3 linked regions of the Homo sapiens genome follow. The protein of the gene in region 1 interacts with the protein of each later gene in a pairwise test. Each region holds a gene or a part of one and is shown in the gene's direction. Other genes may lie near its edges.

What was found.
Region 2: the proteins of CENATAC (region 1) and TXNL4B interact in binary tests that used the Homo sapiens proteins (3 or more experiments, as listed by UniProt).
Region 3: the proteins of CENATAC (region 1) and MESD interact in binary tests that used the Homo sapiens proteins (3 or more experiments, as listed by UniProt).

The regions. Positions count from the first base shown.
Region 1 is NC_000011.10:119,011,544-119,015,199, forward strand, and holds part of CENATAC (centrosomal AT-AC splicing factor), read left to right. Parts: intron 1-395; coding exon 396-460; intron 461-605; coding exon 606-711; intron 712-1,688; coding exon 1,689-1,719; intron 1,720-3,450; coding exon 3,451-3,540; intron 3,541-3,656. UniProt on the Homo sapiens protein: Component of the minor spliceosome that promotes splicing of a specific, rare minor intron subtype. Negative regulator of centrosome duplication.
Region 2 is NC_000016.10:72,087,431-72,090,718, reverse strand, and holds part of TXNL4B (thioredoxin-like protein 4B), read left to right. Parts: coding exon 1-101; intron 102-541; exon of another isoform or gene 542-630; intron 631-1,580; coding exon 1,581-1,732; intron 1,733-3,288. UniProt on the Homo sapiens protein: Essential role in pre-mRNA splicing. Required in cell cycle progression for S/G(2) transition.
Region 3 is NC_000015.10:80,983,317-80,986,972, reverse strand, and holds part of MESD (LRP chaperone MESD precursor), read left to right. Parts: intron 1-3,656. UniProt on the Homo sapiens protein: Chaperone specifically assisting the folding of beta-propeller/EGF modules within the family of low-density lipoprotein receptors (LDLRs).

The DNA.
Region 1 (3,656 bases):
AATTTTTATATTTTTAATAGAGGTGGTGTTTCACCATGTTGGCCAGGCTGGTCTTGAACTCCTGACCTCAGGTGATCCACCCGCCTCAGCCTGCTGGAATTACAAGCATGAGCCACTGTGCCCGGCCATGAACCAGTGCTTCTAAGAGAACTCTGACTGCATTCTCATCTGCTTGGCTTGAATTCCCTTACCTGTGTGCCAGGGGGCAGGCCTAGTCAGTGAATATGTGGACAGGACTGGGAGGGAGGGAGGGAAGAGTCTGTAAAAGATGGGCAGTACCTTCCATATGCTAATTTGTTTCCTTCCTGTGATACTGGGGTCTGGAGGGTGGAGGCATGGCCTAGGCAGGCTCTTAAGCATCCCAGACACATTTATTTTTCCTGAATCAAACTCAGCCTCAGGCAGTGCCAGACCCAGAAGAGGGCTCTTCAGCACCTAGAAGCTGGAAAGGGATGAACAGGTAAGACTATTAGGGAATCTCTTGTTGGGAATTTGACATCTTAGAACATTCTGCAACCTTTTGCCTGGGAAATGGAAACAGATCTAATCTTTACCACCCTCATGGCTCAAGGACCTCATCTGGCAGCCTGGCTCATGTTTTTCAGCCAAGTAGCTTCCAGCTTACAGCAGCCCTCAAATTTGGACCTGCCACCAGCTCCAGAGCTTGACTGGATGGAGACAGGACCATCTCTGACATTCATTGGCCATCAGGTACAAAGGATAAGCAAGCCAGAAGAGGGCCAATGGTCCCTCAGGTCTCAGGACCCCTTTCTCCTGATTTTCTACCTATTCAAGCCACTGCTGCCTCCACTGCAGGCTTTTCCTTCTTCCTTCACTGTTCCCTAGTAGTGTTCTCAGACCTCTTCTCACCCTCCAAAGCGATCCTATTCACATGTATTGACACTTAGGAGTGCCAACTCCTAAATCTTGCCCTCTGTAGAACTCATAGTTCCAACTCAACACAGGACATTAAATATCCCACAGGCATCTGAAACTAACCCCCACCACTCCTATATTTCCAATCACTAGATGCAGATCCTTTCCTTTTCCATCTCCCATATCCTGTCAACAAGCGGTCAATTTTAACCTGTCTGCCTCCATTCAGCCTTTGGGCAATTTCTACTCCCCCTTCAATCCTGCCTCACAAACAGAAAATCATTGTACCACTTATGATTTTACTCTACACTTCAGCTGTATTGTGTTGCTTCGGGCTTTTGCAGTTGCCATTGTCTAAAACCTGCTTTCCTTCCCTCATCACCTAGTTTACCTTCAACTGTTAGCTCAAATGTCACTTTTTCATAAAAGGCTTATCTGAACAGGTTATCTCTATTTCAAGTGGATGTAGCACCATGTAAAGTTGCAAATGTAATTTACGTAACTTGTGCTTAATGCTCTTCCCCAATTATATGTATGCTGTGAGGGCAAGGTTTTGCTCCCCTGGCATGTAATAGCCACTCTACTTACAGACATCTCCACTGTTATGACTGTGAGCTTCCTGAGGACAGGGTTGTCTTAGAGTGACTTACTGTGCTTTCAAAGTTTAACATCAGCTGGGGTGCAGAATTAGCATTGTGGCAGCAGTCACACCCACCTCTTTTAAAGTGTGCTTTGTCTATCGTTTCTAGGATTTTTTTTTTTAATCATGCCTAGACTTTAACTAGCACTTTTTTTCCCATTTCCAACTACAGGATATACCAGGAGTTGGTAACATCCACTCAGGTAAGGTCCAGGGCAGTGTTTTTAAAACCCTGGGAGATTTTTTTTTTTTTTTGAGATGGAGTCTTGTTCTGTCGCCAGGCTGGAGTGCAGTGGCGCAATCTCAGCTCGCTGCAACCTCTGCCTCTCAGGTTCAAGTGATTCTTCTGCCTCAGCCTCCCAAGTAGCTGGGGTTACAGGTGTGCACCACCACACCCAGCTAATTTTTTTTTTTTTTTTTTTGAGACGGAGTCTCGCTCTGTCGCCCAGGCTGGAGTGCAGTGGCGGGATCTCGGCTCACTGCAAGCTCCGCCTCCCGGGTTCACGCCATTCTCCTGCCTCAGCCTCCCAAGTAGCTGGGACTACAGGCGCCCGCCACTACGCCCAGCTAATTTTTTGTATTTTCAGTAGAGACGGGGTTTCACCGTTTTAGCCGGGATGGTCTCGATCTCCTGACCTCGTGATCCACCCGCCTCGGCCTCCCAAAGTGCTGGGATTACAGGCATGAGCCACCGTGCCCGGACTTTTTTTTTTTTTTTAAATAAAGTTGGCCAAGATAAAGCGTATGTATCGGTAAAAGCCTTATATCCAGAATATATGAAGAACTGTCAACTTGATAAGGAAACAACCCAATAAAAGCATATGAATAATGTTCAACATTAGTCATTAGAGAAATGCAAATTAAAACCACAGTGAAATACCACTACATATGTATTGGAATGGCAGAAATTAAAGACTGATCATGCCAAGTGTTTGGCAGTGTAGAAAAACCAAACCTTCATACACTGCTCTTAGAATGTAAACTGGTACAGTCACTTTGGAAAACAGTTTGGGATACACCTACCACATTATCCAACCGTTCCACCCCTAACTAGAGAAAAGAAAGCCTGTCTACATAGACTTGTACACAAATCTTCAGAACAGCTTCACTTGTAGCAGCTCCAAATTGGAAACAATTCAGATGTCTATCAACAGGCAAATGGATTAACAATGGAATAGTATTCCAGGATGAAGACAGAATTATTGATACGTACGACACAGATGAATCTCAGAAGTCCAGACCTGGCCGGCGTGGTGGCTCATGCCTGTAATCCCGACACTTTGGGAGGCCAAGGCAGGCGGATCACGAGGTCAGGAGTTCAAGACCAGTTTGGCCAACATGGTGAAACCCCATCTCTACTAAAAATTCAAAAATTAGCTGGGCATCGCAGCGCACGCCTGTAATCCCAGCTACTTGGGAGGCTGAGGCAGAATTGTTTGAACCGAGACCTGGGAGGCGGAGGTTGCAGTGAGCTGAGATTGTGTCCAGCCTGGGCTAGAGCGAGACTCCTCTCAAAAAAACAAAAGGCCAGACCCCACCTCAATGTCCACACACAGAAAATCCTAAAAAATACAAACCAATAAAGCAACTGAAAGATCACCGATTGCCTGGACATGAAAATATTTTAATGGGGGCAGTGATACTTACAGGGGGATGTTTGGGGTCTAGATTGTAATGGCTTCGCTCAAAAGTCACCAAATTTAAGTGTGTATCGTTTATGTCAGTTGTGCCTCAAAGCCATTTTAAAATGACTGTCACATATGGGGTATGTCGCTTTAAATTAGCCTAGGGCCTTCTAAAGCTCCAGAATTCCTGGGCTTTGCTTTTAGACATTTCTAGCTCTTAATGAGGAGAGGTAAGCTAACAGCTAGGACATGTTTCACAATAGCCTGAAGACTTAAAAAAAAAAAAAAAAGCCTTAATTTTTTTTTCAGGTGCCACACCTCCCTGGATGATCCAAGATGAAGAATACATTGCTGGGAACCAAGAAATAGGACCATCCTATGAAGAATTTCTTAAAGAAAGTAAGTAAACTAATTCAAGAGAGGATCGTCTAAATCTTCACACTCAAAAATGGTTTCCTTGCCTGTGTGTGGTGGCTCATGGCTATAATCCTAGCATTTTGGGAGGCTGAGGTGGG
Region 2 (3,288 bases), on another chromosome or scaffold:
AAAAGGAAGTAGACCAGGCGATAAAAAGTACTGCTGAGAAGGTGTTGGTTCTCAGGTTTGGGAGAGATGAAGATCCTGTCTGTCTGCAGCTAGATGATATTGTAAGTGAATGTCTAAAATAATTGGTTTTTATTAATAATCTGTATATTCTCACTTCAGCATCTGAGTAGTACATGAGAGGGAGTAGTCAGGGTTGGGTATATAGCTGTTCATTTGTTAGTTCACTAAGAGCTGATTGTGTGCCTGCCCTGAACCAAGCCCCCAAATCTGTGTGTGCTGAATCTGTCTTGGATGTCCTTACCCACTAGAAGCTGTCAATGCTGTTTCACCAACAAGGTGATGGAAGAGCAGAAAACTATTAACAAGCATCTGTGAACACTATCTTTTCAGTGCTCGCAATAGTGGGATAATAGTAGCCCCATTTCCCAGTAGGAAAAAAAAAACCAGAGAGGTCAAGTAATTTCCCACAGGTGCAGATCCACTATATTGCAGAGTTGAGATTTGAACTCAGTTTTCTGTAGCTGCAAATAATCTTTTCTAGTGTGCTGCCTCCAGTATGTGCCTGATGCAGAGAGAGACCTAACCCAGAACTAAGACCTCTTACCGCCATTTCTACTGCTACCATCCCGTGTAAGAGCTGAGCGTACAAATCCTCATTTCCGTGGTTACAATGAGGGTGTGATGTGTTAGCTTGGGGAAAAAAGGACCAGAGGATTCTACCCTCAGTCATAAGCAGGAGGAAATACCACAGAGGTCAGTGATGTAGACACTGAAGCCACACTGCCAAAGTTCAAACCCCAGCCCTACTGCTCAGGAGCTGTGTGACCTGGGGCAAATTACTTTACCTTCCTGTGCCTCAGTTTCCCTATCTATAAAATGGGGACTCTGATAGCATATACCTTATAAGAATGATGTAAGGATTAAATGAGTTAACAAATGTTAAGCACTTAGGACAGTTACCACATAGTAATGTTATATAAGTGTCTGCTACTAATTATCGTGGTTTTCATTTCTGGGAGGATTGGGAGGAAGGAGACGTTAGGGAATTTCAGTATCCACATAACATATTTCTAAGTTGTGTTGTTTTAAATGAGCATGGGCTACTTTTATAAAAGCATTCAAAGAAAGAAATTAAAGGAAGAAATAGATTCACACAGTTTTCCCCAAGGATTTGTATGCTCAGCTCTTAACACGGGATGGCAGCAGTAGAAATGGCGGGTAGAGGTCTTAGTTCTGGGTTAGGTCTCTCTCCACAATGAATAGACAGGAATACTCCCATGCTGTCACCCTCCTAAACTCACACAGTTTTCCCCAAGGTCCCCTTCTAACCTCACACAGTTTTCCCCAAGGTCCCTTCCTAACCTCATACAGTTTTCCCCAAGATTCCCTCCTAACCCCGTTGCAGTGAATGAGACTCTGGAGGATGGGGTTATGCTTTGTCTAATGTGGGAGCCACATGGGCTGCATTGTTGGCCCAGGAGTTTTTTCAAACAAAACACTCTGTTGTAGTAACAAGTTTCACAGAAGAAACATTAAGCTGCCTCTCATATTGTAACCTTTGTCTCTCTCGTCATTTGCAGCTTTCTAAGACCTCTTCTGACTTAAGTAAAATGGCTGCTATATACCTGGTAGATGTGGACCAAACTGCAGTTTATACACAGTATTTTGACATCAGTTATATTCCATCTACTGTCTTTTTCTTCAATGGGCAGCATATGAAAGTGGATTATGGGTAAGTGCAGTTGATCTGAAGTTAATTGCAACCTTGTAAGTTTCCTTGGTAAGCATTTTCAGTAGCTTGCCTATTTCCATGTGATGTTGGCTCTGTGAGTCTTATATCAGTACTGTTTCCCCAATTGACGCACTCTCTAATTTTTTATGCAAAACCTTGCTACAAAATGAGAGTGCTTCTGGTATGATTGTCAAATTTTATTTATTTTTTTAATAGTGCATACACATGGTTTGTCAAATTTTAATTTCCGACTTAAGTATGAAGAAATAGTACAGGTGGCAAAGCACTACCATCCATAAGTCTATAAAATATAAAATAGCCATATTAGCTAAATAAAGAACTCTTAAAATTTTCCCAGGAATTTCATTTGAAACAAAACATGTAGTTTTTCTTAAGCTTTTGGACTGGTAAGTGGCATTTATGAAAGAAACATTCCTTCTAGCAAACTAAGATGTGCTTCTCTCTTGCAAAGTTTCCTGCTTTTCGCCATTGAATTTTAAATCATTCTTCAACAAAGCCTGTCAAGAATAAGTAACATGATGTCCTCTTTAGTGCCTTCCACTCCATCCAATTACCATCTCAATACTTAATATTGATGATTGGGTGCATCCATGATTCTGATCATTTCTTACTGTGGTTGATGTGTCCACTTATCTAGATCTGTGTACCCTTTTTGTCTTTATTTGAAAGTATGTGAAATATTATCTGTTTTAAAGTGTTTTAGGCTGGGCATAGTGGCTCACGCCTGTAATCCCAGCACTTTGGGAGGCCAAGGCAGGCGGATCATTTGAGGTCAGGAGTTCAAAACCAGCATGGCCAACATAGTGAAACCCCATCTCTACTAAAAATACAAAAATTAGCCAGGCATGGCCAGGCGCAGTGGCTCACGCGTGTAATCCCAGCACTTTGGGAAGCCGAGGCAGGCAGATTATGAGGTCAGCAGATCGAGACCATCCTGGCTAACACAGTGAAACCCTGTCTCTACTAAAAATACAAAAAATTAGCTGGGCGTGGTGGCGGGCGCATGTAGTCCCGGCTACTCTGGAGGCTGAGGCAGAAAAATGGCATGAACCCAGGAGGCGGAGCTTGCAGTGAGCCGAGAGCGCGCCACTGCACTCCATCCTGGGCAACAGAGCTGCCGTCTCAAAAAAAAGATTAGCCAGGCATGATGGTGGGTGCCTGTAATCCCAACTACTCAGGAGGCTGAGGCAGGAGATTCGCTTGAGCCCAGGAGGTGGAGGTTGCAGTGAGCAGAGAACGCACCACTACACTCCAGTCTGGTGACAGAGCAAGGCTCCATCGCAAAACAACAACAACAACAACAAAAAAAAAACACAAAAGTATTTTAAAGCTGTTTATTCTACTGGAACACATTTGATGTAAGTATTAATTTGGTACAACCTTTTATGGGGGCCAGTTCAACATTATGTATCAAATAGTTTAAAGTTTTTAAACTTTTTAACCCAGTAATTACACTTCCAGGACTTTAATATGATGTTGCAGATGCACATTTAACAAATGAAAGAAATATATGTCAGCTAGAAAAAAGCATATTA
Region 3 (3,656 bases), on another chromosome or scaffold:
CATCATCTTCCTTGTATATTAAATGGAACCGGGTAGGATTGTTCTGAAGGTTGGAGATAATATATGTAGAGTGCCTGGGACTTAGTAGCTACTTAGTAGATGTCACTTATTATTAATATCAAGAACCATGGGAGGAAGAAGAGGATTTGCAGAAAGGGGAGCTCAGCTTTGTAGCTACTGACTTAGACAAACAGTAATGAAGGAGCTCTAAAGCCAGTTGAAAATGCAAGACTGGCCTGGAGGCAGGGCTAGGACTGGAGTCAGGGGACTGCCTGACTTGTCCCTGGCCCCCCGCTCTGCCTCAGGGTAAAGACTGGATTGTTTTCAGCATAAACACACTGATCATAACAGGTTAGGTTACCCAGACTAAGGGTAGAACTGGATAATTATGTACATCTAGGGTACTATTTTTACACTTCAATTTTAACATATAATAATTATACATATTTATGGGGTACAGAGTTGTATTTCTACACATGTATAAAATGTAATGGTCAATTCAGGGTAATTAGCATATCTGTCTCCTAAACATTAATCATTTCTTTGTGTTGGGAACATTTAAAATTCTCTCCTAGCTGTTTGAAAATATGCAATAAATTATTGTTAACTATAGTCATCCTACAATGCTATAGAGCACTAGAATTTATTCTTCCTATCTAATGTAATTTTGTATCCATTCACCATCCTCTCTCCCTATCTCCCCTCCACTTCCCAGCCTCTAGTAACCACAATTCTAATCTCCACTTATGTGAACACAACTATTTTAGGTCCGCATACGAAGGAGAATGCGCGGTATTTGTCTTTCTGTGTCTGGCTTATTGCACTTAACATAATGTCCTCCAGGCTCATTAGGGTACTATTTTGCAATTTTCTTTTCTGTAACTGAAACACACACACACATATACAATGGAAATTAAAGCTGCTTTTTTTTTTAAGTCTCTTGAAACAATTTTTACCTGTATTATATGCACTAGACTTACGACTATTTAATTATATTTGCATTAACAAAGAAGTGCTGGACTGGGCTTAGTGGCTCATGCCTGTAACCCCAGCACTTTGGAAGACTGAGGCGGGTGAATCCTTCGAGCTCAGGAGTTCGAGACCAGCCTGGGCAACATGGTGAAACCCGTCTTTACCAGAAATACAAAAATAAATTACCCAGGTGTGGTGGCATGCACTTGTGGTCCCAGCTACTCTGGAGGCTGGGATAGGAAGATCACTTGAGCCTGGCAGGCAGAAGTTGCAATGAGCCAAGATTGCACCAGCACCATTGCATTCCAAACTGGGTAATAGAGTAAGACCCCATCTAAAAAAAAAAAAAAAAAAAAAAAAAGCTGCTTGGGACCTACTGAGTTAATTTCATGATTATTAGTGAAATCAATCTGAAAAATACAAATATTCTAGGGTATTGAACCAACTGGAAGTCTTGAAGTGTTTTAAAGAGACTATAACCGATGTTATGGAGAATTAAGATAAAGACAGAAACAACTTGTGAATTTGGCAACTAGGAGGTCCTTTGTGACTTGAGAGTATAATTTCCATGCAGTGATTGTGGTTGGAGGCCAGATCACAGAGGCCTAAAGAGTCAGCAGTGTCATAGCCAACAGATACAGTACTGAGTTCTGCTTGCCTTTAAGTCATTACATCCCCAAACAAACCTTAGGAGGGAGAAGCTGTTATTACCCTCAGCTTTCCATTATAGGTAAGGAAAGTTATTTTCAGATGGGCTAAGTAACTTGCCCAAGGCCACATAGTGATGGAGCGCATCCGTCTGACAGCACAGCCCATGCTCCTGTCTGCAAGTCACCATCAGTGGCTCTTTGAAAGCAAAGTGAGGAAGAAACATGTCAGTTGAGAGGGTGGCAGAGTGGAAAAGAAGGTTAGTGTGTTATGTGTGGTCATGTTACTGGGGCCTTGGAGATCACTTCGTTCTGCTTTTCATTTTGTAAATGAGGAAACAGGCCTCGAGGCGTAAGGATTCTTAGGCAGGGTCACACAGCTAGTTATGCAAAACTGAAACCAGATTCCAGGTCTGACGTCGGTATGGATCACCTTCAAGCACTGCGTAGAATTCTTTCGTTTTTACTTTTTACTAAAATTATTTTTAATATAGTACATTATTAATGGTATCTTAAGCCTTGGCCCTTCAGATATTGTTCAGTAAGAGTGACTTAGGGGCTTTTTTTTGTTTTTTGTTTTGGTAACAGGTTTATTGAGATTCAATTCACATGCCATAGGCAATTTACCCATGTAAAGTGTACATTTTAGTTTTAGTATCTTCAGAGAATTGTACAGTCATCACCAAACTCAATTTTAGAACATTTTTATCATCCCCAAAAGAAACCTTCAACCACTCCTCCCCTGTGTTCTCCCAACTCCCTAGCCAGCCCCGGGCAATCGCTTATCTACCTTCTGTCTCAACAGATTTATCCATTCTGGACATTTCCTATAAATGGAATCATAGAATGTGTAGTCTTTCATATCTGGCTTCTTTCACTTAGCATAATATTTTCATGTATCAATCAGTACTTCATTTCTTTTTTCTTTTTTCTTTTTCTTTTTGGTAGAGATAGGGTCATGATATGTTGCTCAGGCTGGTCTTTAACTCCTGTGCTCAGGTGATCTCCAGCTTCGACCTCCTAAAGTGCTGAGGTTATAGTTGTGAGCCACCATACCCAGCCAGTACTTCATTTTTTTTGGTTGCTGGCATTAGCCTTTTCTCCAAGGAACCTGGTTCTATTAAAGATTTTTTATTTGTCAGTCTATATGCTATTTATTAGGCATGGTGGCTAATGCCTGTAATCCCAGCACTTTGGGAGGCCGAGGTGGGCAGATCACGAGGTCAGGAGATCGAGACCATCCTGGGCAACATGGCAAAACCCCGTCTCTACTAAAAATACAAAAATTAGCTGGATGTGGTGGTGCGTGCCTATAATCCCAGCTACTCGGGAGGCTGAGGCAGGAGAATCGCCTGAACCCAGGAGGCAGAGGTTGCAGTGAGCCGAGATCGTGCCACTGCACTCCAGCCTGGTGACAGAGTGAGACTCCATCTCAAAAAAAAAAAAAAAAAAAAAAAAAGTTACTGTTTTCTATTAGTAATTTATTCATTTGTTTTGATCATTATGGGTTCAACATCTCATTTTGTTTGAGGGGTTGTAAGTCATACTATTATTTATTTTGATGTTGAGATTATTTCAACTTTGGCCCATGAGAGCTGCTTCAAGTTGGCTTCCATGGCATTTTGACATGTTCACGATTCTTTGAGCACTTTACTACTTTGTGATGCGGGATTATTCTAGGCTCATCTTCTGTCTCTCTTGCTATAAGCCTGTTCTCCAAGGAACCCACGCTCTTTTAAATATTTTTATCCATTAATCTGTTTACTCATCTGTTAATCTATGAAAAACCATGAGTTTCTCCTGATACCTTCAATTCCAGCCTAATACCACAGGGCTCATTCTTCCCCCTTTCATGTTTGTAACTTACTTCCCAGAAGTTAAGAACCTGGCTCTCATTACCCTCAATATGTTTACTCCTTTTCTCAATCCTAGAGGTCACATAAGATAGTCTCAGAATTGCTAGCCCATACCACTACAGAAAACAAACCTGCTAACTGGAATTGAATATTTTTGTACAATGCCTATTAAGTGAAATGG